Homo sapiens: one gene and its partner. The protein of the gene in region 2 purifies or fractionates together with the protein of the main gene of each other region. This does not show direct contact. Each region holds a gene or a part of one and is shown on either strand. Other genes may lie near its edges.

Evidence for each region.
Region 1: the proteins of FAM153A (region 2) and DHX32 purify together in Homo sapiens (affinity purification with mass spectrometry; one large-scale study listed by BioGRID and IntAct). This does not show direct contact.

What each region holds. Positions count from the first base shown.
Region 1 is NC_000010.11:125,839,793-125,843,613, forward strand, and holds part of DHX32 (putative pre-mRNA-splicing factor ATP-dependent RNA helicase DHX32), read right to left. Parts: intron 3,011-3,821; exon of another isoform or gene 2,143-3,010; coding exon 1,951-2,142; exon of another isoform or gene 1,568-1,950; coding exon of another isoform or gene 1,463-1,567; intron 1,205-1,462; coding exon 1,055-1,204; intron 1-1,054. Other genes in the region: BCCIP (BRCA2 and CDKN1A-interacting protein), read left to right, coding at 1,463-1,538.
Region 2 is NC_000005.10:177,734,358-177,738,178, forward strand, and holds part of FAM153A (protein FAM153A), read right to left. Parts: intron 2,756-3,821; coding exon 2,685-2,755; intron 2,253-2,684; coding exon 2,222-2,252; intron 577-2,221; coding exon 506-576; intron 48-505; coding exon 23-47; intron 1-22.

The DNA of each region.
Region 1 (3,821 bases), on a different chromosome or scaffold from region 2:
TACTTAAGATGGACCTGGGAATGTACATGGCCATGGCACCATGGACAGAAGACCCTCATTTACCCTGTCCTGTCCACTCATGCTGCTCGGAGCAACCACAGCATGTACTTAGTGTCACCCATTCAGCATGCCCTCAAAAGGTGCCACCAGATTCCTGTGTACCTGCTGGCTCCACTGACAACTTTTTCTTCTCAGCTTTGAAACACTAACTCCCTGTTCTTTATACAATTCTGTCTTTCAAATTGCTGTCATATTTTTCACACTACTTCACATATTTTCACACCATCTTTCAGAACAAAGGAGGTAAAAGATGCTTCATGGAAAATGTCAGGGAGGGACCTTACTGGCTGCCCTTTATGGGTGGCTCTAGCCTCTGCTATGCTGCTTTGCCCTGTTTGCCCCCTCCTCTTGTTTCTGTCTGCATAGCAGCTTCCAGTTGACTTCTGAGTACCTTCCTGTGACAGGTAAGCTACCCACTGCCCTTCAGGCATACAAAGGACTTTGTGGCTTTGCTTTGACATGCGCCATTCTCTTCTCTGGACACCCTCTGCTCTCCTCTATCAAGCTCCGTCAGCAACTCTGCAGCCTCCCCTCAGCACCCCAGCCTACCTATTCTGCACTAGTATCTGGAGCTCTGCAGCCTCTCTGCATGCACGTGGTGAATGTGCCAGGATACGGAAGGTGCACAGCACAACTCTGACAGTGGGCACGTAGAGGTGGCTGTTCTTGTCTTCCTCCAAAGACCCATGTACGAGTCTGTGTCCCCCGTCACCATGCCCCAAGCAAGCTTGCTCTGAAGGCTGGCTGAGTGGAGTCCTGGAGCTCTGGAAGTACAGGCCCGCCATGGTGGCACACCAGAGCTCCGTGGGAGCAGGGGGACTGAGCATCTCCCACTCTGCAGATGCCTGTGGGTGCGTTTAGGGCCTCAAGTGCCATTGCATTCAAGTGGCCAGTAGGGCTGGCGAAGAATGTTTGATGAATAACTAATAAGGACTCAGACTTATCTAGGGAAAGGAAGGTGGAATTAATAGGTAGTTTCTGAGCATTCACTTACACTCACTGCTAGAATTCAGAGTTGTGTCTTGGTAAGCCTTGTAAATGCTGATGAGGGTAAAGTGATCTCCTTCGGGATGTAAAAATGTCTTCCAACAAGTCAAGGCAGCCTCTTCAGCTCCATGTGGCACATGTGAAAAGCAATTTGGAGCTTCAAAATGAAAAAGGTCACATGGTTAGCAATAATGAAGACATTTTATCTTAGCCTAACATGCAGAGGGGAGGGGTCACGACTGTTAGTGGCATGGCTCCTGTCTTGGTACTCTGAATAAATATGTTATTCTTGTTTACTTAGAAATCCCAGAAATTTAGAGTGAGTCATCCTAATTCTCCCTCTCCTTTTGTGTGTGTGTGTTTGCTTTTCTAAGGTCAACTGAATATGGTTAATATCCTGCTTCTATTCCGGCAGGAGCAGGGAAAACCTGAGGTGCTTGGAGGTCCAGACACAAGAAGAGGATTGGAACCAGTTCCGATACAGCACAATGGTTGGTCTGTTCCCCCAGTATTAGAATAAATTAAAACATACAAGCCAGGATGAATGAAGCCAATAGGAAATAAAAAACAGGCACACAACATTATTTGGGGAAAAACACCTCTAGTGACACATTTTCTTCATCTGCACTGATTATTTCAGCAAAAGAAATCTAGTATGTTTTCATACATCTGATGTATAAATTTGCTGAACTTTGAGTTAGTTTTCTTAAGATAATTTTTCATATTAAGAAAATTTTCCTTTTCTAACCTATTAAAATACCTCACTATCATTTCAAAAGGTTAAATGAGTTGATCACTATCTCTGCTCTGTGCTCCTCAAAATATAATTTCAAATGGATCCGATCTAAATCTATACCTAGTGCAGATTTGCAAAAAAAGAAAAGGAATAGTCATTAAGGATACCTGTTACCATGGCTGCGATTGTTAGCACTTCATCTACACAGTCAAATTCACAGGACGCTAAGATAGACTTCGAGAGTTGTGGATCAAGAGGAAACTCTGACATGATGATTCCAAATTCAGAAAGATTTCCATCATTATCCAGTGCTGCCAGATAATCTAAGTCTTCCAATGCCTGCATCAAACTTTCTGGTGCTAGGAAAGGAAAAAAATAATAATTTAAGAGTCTCATATGGCTAAGATGGAGAAACAGGTACTGGACTTTTCCCTCCTGCATGAAACAAGCAAACAATGGACAAAATATGTGAAACAACGGTTTGCAAGCCACCAAATACCAGGGAGTGAAGGATAGTGATTCTTGAGAGGGCAAACTCAGGAGGGGAGCCCTGTGATTGTCCAGCTCATGCTCCGAGGAGGGTCCCAGCTGCAGTGTGCATGCGGGGGGAACCCAGGTGGAGCCTGCCAGCCTCCCTGCAGTAGGAAAACAATGCCAGGGATCCAGGGAGACTAAGGTGGCCGGAACTCGCGGTCACAGTACTGGAGAGAGACACACAGATCTAAGTCGGGGGCCAGAGGGAGCTCCCTCAACTAGGCAGCACAGCCCTACTGATCAGCGCATGTGTGTAAGGAACCACCTCAGGCCAGAGAAAGAGCCATGTGAGAAGATTAGAAGGAACAGTGGTGCTGACACAGGACCTAGGGTAGGGCCTGTTCCCACCACCCTAGCTGGAAAACCTCATGATTTATGGGGCACTGGGTAGAAAACACAAGTGAGAAACCCTAGATGGGCACTGCCACCTGACACAGCTATACAGCAGGACCTGAAAGGATCACACTGCATCCTAGGACAAAGCTCAAAAGTACCTCTGGGACTACAAAAATATTCAGTGCCCAAGAAGGTAAAATGTACAATGTCTAGCATCCAGTAGAGAGGCATGAAAAGCAGGAAAATACATTGCATAATACAGAGAAAAATTAATCACAACTGACCTGGATCTCAGATGCTAGAAATAGTAGACAAAGATGTTATTTCCCAGTGCAAATAAAGAAATAAAGATAGCAAGCTGATTCTCTCCATCTCTTTATTTCTTTTAAGTTTATGTAACATCGATAATGATGTGGTATTATATATGCTCAGTCTTTACCAAAGTTTTTAAAAATCCATTTATTTAAAGAAATATATTCTCTTTGTGGAATAAGGCTATATATAGATTGGTGCAAAAGTAATTGCGGTTTTTGCCATTACTTTCAATGGCAAAAACCACAATTATTTTTGCACCAACCTAATATTTATTAAATAAATACATGTGTTTTGTCCACCCTTCTGGTTCCTGGTATAGCAATACAGGTCACACAATGAAGCAAATCCCATAATAGAAAGCTGCTGTATTGTTATACCCCAAAACTGCAGGATTTATGAGCCACTAGGTTGGTTTTGTTTTAGTTCCAGTAAGTGCAAGGTGGGCAGGGGCTGAAGACTCTGGGGCCCTAAGAAGCGCTTGAACCTGTCTGCTCCTGGGAGTTCAAAGTAACATATGGTAAAAATTTTCTTATGTGCTGTCTAAACTTTGATCATTAAGCTCTATGTCTAAATTTCAGGCAAACTGAGTAGCTCAAAAACCTCACTTTGGGAGGCCGAGGCGGGAGGATCACCAGGTCAGGAGATTGAGACCATCCTGGCTAACACGGTGAAACCCCGTCTCAACTAAAAAAATACAAAAAATTAGCCGGGCGTGGTGGCAGGCGCCTGTGGTCCCAGCTACTCGGGAGGTTGAGGCAGGAGAATGGCGTGAACCCAGGAAGTGGAGCTTGTAGTGAGCCGAGATGGCACCACTGCACTCCAGCCTGGGCGACAGAGCGAGACTCCGTCTCAA
Region 2 (3,821 bases):
AGAGGGGTTCCCCAATACGTACCACGTTGTGGAACTCCCAAGGATGTCTGTAACGACAGAAAATAAATTGCTATGAGCATCAGACCATGCTGTGTCCTGTGAGCACAGGACTTTTCTTCACTTAGTGACATTAGAAAACAAGATGGAAAACCCAGTGTTCAAAGGAACCCCAAAGAAGCGAACAAATCAACTCATACTAAAGACACACATTTTTCTCAGAGGATGTTTCCTCTGAAGTCCATGTTGGCTGGCAAGTAGCTGATTTTGCTCCAAAGAGAACAAAATTGGTAAGGCTCACTGTTACACAACAGGTGACTGATGCTGTCATTTTCTCCCACTGTCTTAAATCAAGCCTCAGTGGGGACAGACTCTCACTTACCATTTCCCTCAAGGACACTGTGTAACTAAGATATATATCTTCAGATTCTCATATCTTAATTTAATCCAAATAAGATAAAGCTAAGAAAGCAACAGTTTTTTCTCAGACAAATCCAGTTGGCCTGACCTTCACCTCCTCTGGGTCCTCCTCCTCACCGTTGTAACTGGACAGCTCCTGAAGTACATCCCTGATCAGAACTAGGAGGATACAAAGTGACCATCAGCACCTTGGTGGTGGTGCTCATGAACAATTCAGTAACACTGCTTGAGGTGGGTTTGGGAGGAGGGTAGCAGGCACAGGAGAGATGCAGGAAGAAAGGGAATCAGGGCCTTTGGCTTCCTAGCTCCAGGCCACCTCATAAACATATAATAGCCAATCTCAAACAGTGCACACCACGCAGTGCAGGCTGTGTGTCCCTGGCAGCCTCTTAGGGCTCCTCCTTCCTAATCTGACCTGAGCTAACTTGCCCTCTTATTGATCCCTGACAAAGTCATTTCCTCCTCAGAATCCACATGTGCTGCTGATCTGTTTATCATCCCTTCTAGAAGATTTTGTACGGAATAAGAAGCAACCTTTCTTAAAATAGGAGATTTAATTCTAGCCAAAAGATTTTATTACTAACTTTCTGGTACAAGGCAAATAAACCAAGATTTGAAAATAATTTTCCTACCATTTAAAGATGACCCCTACTTAGCATGTGGTATTTGTTCTTCCACTTTCCCTTTTCAACAGAATTTGTGTGTAGCATGATGTTCACTGCTCCCCATGCTCACACTGACTCCAGCACTGGAGCAGCCTGTCATGGGGAGCAGCGAGGGGGTGCGGGGGGTGGGCACTGACCCTCTCCAATCCAGCTGTGCAGGAGATTCCAGCAGGGAAAATGGGTGCCCGGCTAACACCCAAGTTGAGCCTTGACTTTTTTTTATTGGATTCTATGTCTTGGGATTGGGTTCCACTGAACTTCTAAGACTTGCCGTGATTATCTCATCAAATACAATAGAGTATGGCACTGATTATCGTCTGCTTTTGAACAGGAGCTGAGGAATGACCTCAACGCTGTAGACCAAAAGCCTGAGGACTCTGTGTGTTTTACATTAATGATCACACTAAAGCCCACTGTGCAATGTACCTACTCAAACAAACCCTGGGTTAGATGACCATTGACACCATCTGATAATGATAGTGTTTGGGATCTGAATAGGTTTTCATTCTCCCACATGCACACAGAAGTGCTGGAATAACTTGGCCTAGCAAGAAATTATACCAGGGCTTTGTGACAAATTCAGTGTACTAGCTCATGGCATTAACCTTCCACTCATCCCTGAGTTCACATGTGCCTCTTCCATTTAAAAGACCAAGAGCTTGGGAAATTCAACTCTGCAGCATGTCCATCTGAGGACTGCGGATATTAAACTTATCTTCAGGTACAGCTGTGGTGGAGGATGAATGGGTTGATTTATGCAAACTGTGCAGTGGTGATGGAATTTTTCTTGAACATTGATCCTCATGTTGTGCTTTGCAGATGGGAGTGTGTTTTCTGGGGAAATGCACACACACTCCCAAAGACATCCACAATCATTCCATACAGACTGTCTCCTCTGTCCCTCCCATCCCTGATGTACCACCCCACCTTAGATGACACTGCTGCTTCCAGGGATGACAGTAGCATGGTTAGAGTGGTTTACTGGATCTTAGCATTCTTTTAAACCAAACTTCCCAAATCTCATTTCTGGCAGACAGCTCAAACCAGAGTGGCTCTTGAACAAAGGCAGGCAAAACAGTGCCATCTTTGCAACTCTAATATTTTGAACCTAAACAAAGAGATGATCCCAGAATACGTACATTCGGCCAGTGTGTCTGGGTCCCCCTCCATCTAGAGAAAAACAAAACACTATGAGGATCAGACCAGGCTGTGTCCTGTGTGCACAGGTCTTCTCTTCACTTGTTTATGTTAAAAAAACAGATGGTAAATAGTACTTGAGACAATGGCCCCGATATCTAGAAGACATTCGTGGAAAGGCACAAGATTTTTGTGCAAGATTTTCATTGTTTTTGTTTGACAATTCCAAATTTTTCTCAAGAAGACATTTCTCTTAAGGTAAATGCCTGCTGACACACAGTTTGTAAATGTGGATGCCATCTGAAACCACTCTTTAGTTGATAATGAACGCTGACATTTGCCCACCAAGAAATTCTGTCAGTCACCTATAGTGTACATGGTGAGATGTATACATCTTAATTCAATTGAAACAGAGAAACCGAGAGAAATAAAATTTCCTTTTCAGAGGAAAGAAGACGACTTTACCGTGTGAACTTCTGTGGCTTCCTCAGAGACTGTCTGCCCTGGCCCATGCTCCTCCAGGTCTTCCAGGTCACCTAGGAAACAGAGTCGCTATAAGCACATGAGCTCCACTGAGTGAATCCCTCAGGTGGTCTTGGAGCTGTGGACACGGGGCTGGCGTGTGTGGAAAGGTGTGTTCACAGCACAGACTCAGCTGCTGCCAGTCCATCCTCCATGGTGGAGGGAAGGCAAATGGTGAAGGAAGGCATCAGGAAGGCCTCAGAAGACAGAGCCTTGGGTCCTCTAGCTAAGGCAACCTCTTTGAGATGAAGTAACCCATCTCAAACAGGGCACACCACACAGTGTTTCCCTGGAGCATCGACAGCTTCTCCTTCCTAATCTGACCTGAGCTAACTTGCCCTCCCTTCTTGATCCCCTAGAGGTCATTTCCTCCCCAGGATCCACATGTCCTGCTGCTGTGTATTTTGTCCCTCCTAGATTTATTATTATTATTATTTTTGAGATGGAGTTACTCTCTTCTTGCCCCAGCTGGAGTATAATTGTGCAATCTCAACCCACCACCACCTCTGCCTCCCAGGTTCAAGTGATTCTCCAGCCTCAGCCTCCTGAGTAGCTGGGATTATAGGCATGCATCACCATGCCCAGTTAATTCTGTATTTTTAGGAGAGATGGGTTTTCTCCATGTTGGTCAGCCTGGTTTCGAACGCCTGACCTCAGGTGATCCACCCGTCTTGGCCCCCCAAACTGCTGGAATTACAGGTGTGAGCCACCACGCCTGACCAGAATATTCTGTACTAGAAACAAAGCAACCTTTCTTCAATGAGGAGATTAATTCTATTAAAATATTCTATGTATTCACTAACCTTTTGTTTTAAAGAAGACTAAACCAAGATTTGAAAATACTCAATTATCCTACCATTTAAAGATGACTGCTACTTGGCCCGTGATGTTTGTCCTTCTGCCCTTCCTTTTAACACAGTGTGTGTGTGCCACGGGACCTGCTGCTGCTCATGCTCACACTGGCTCCAGCATTAGGACAGCCCATCACGGGGGCAGCAGGTGGGGGCGCTGAACCTCTCCAACCCAGCTGTATAGAAGAGTCCAGCAGAGAAGATGAGCACCAGGATAACACCCAAGTTT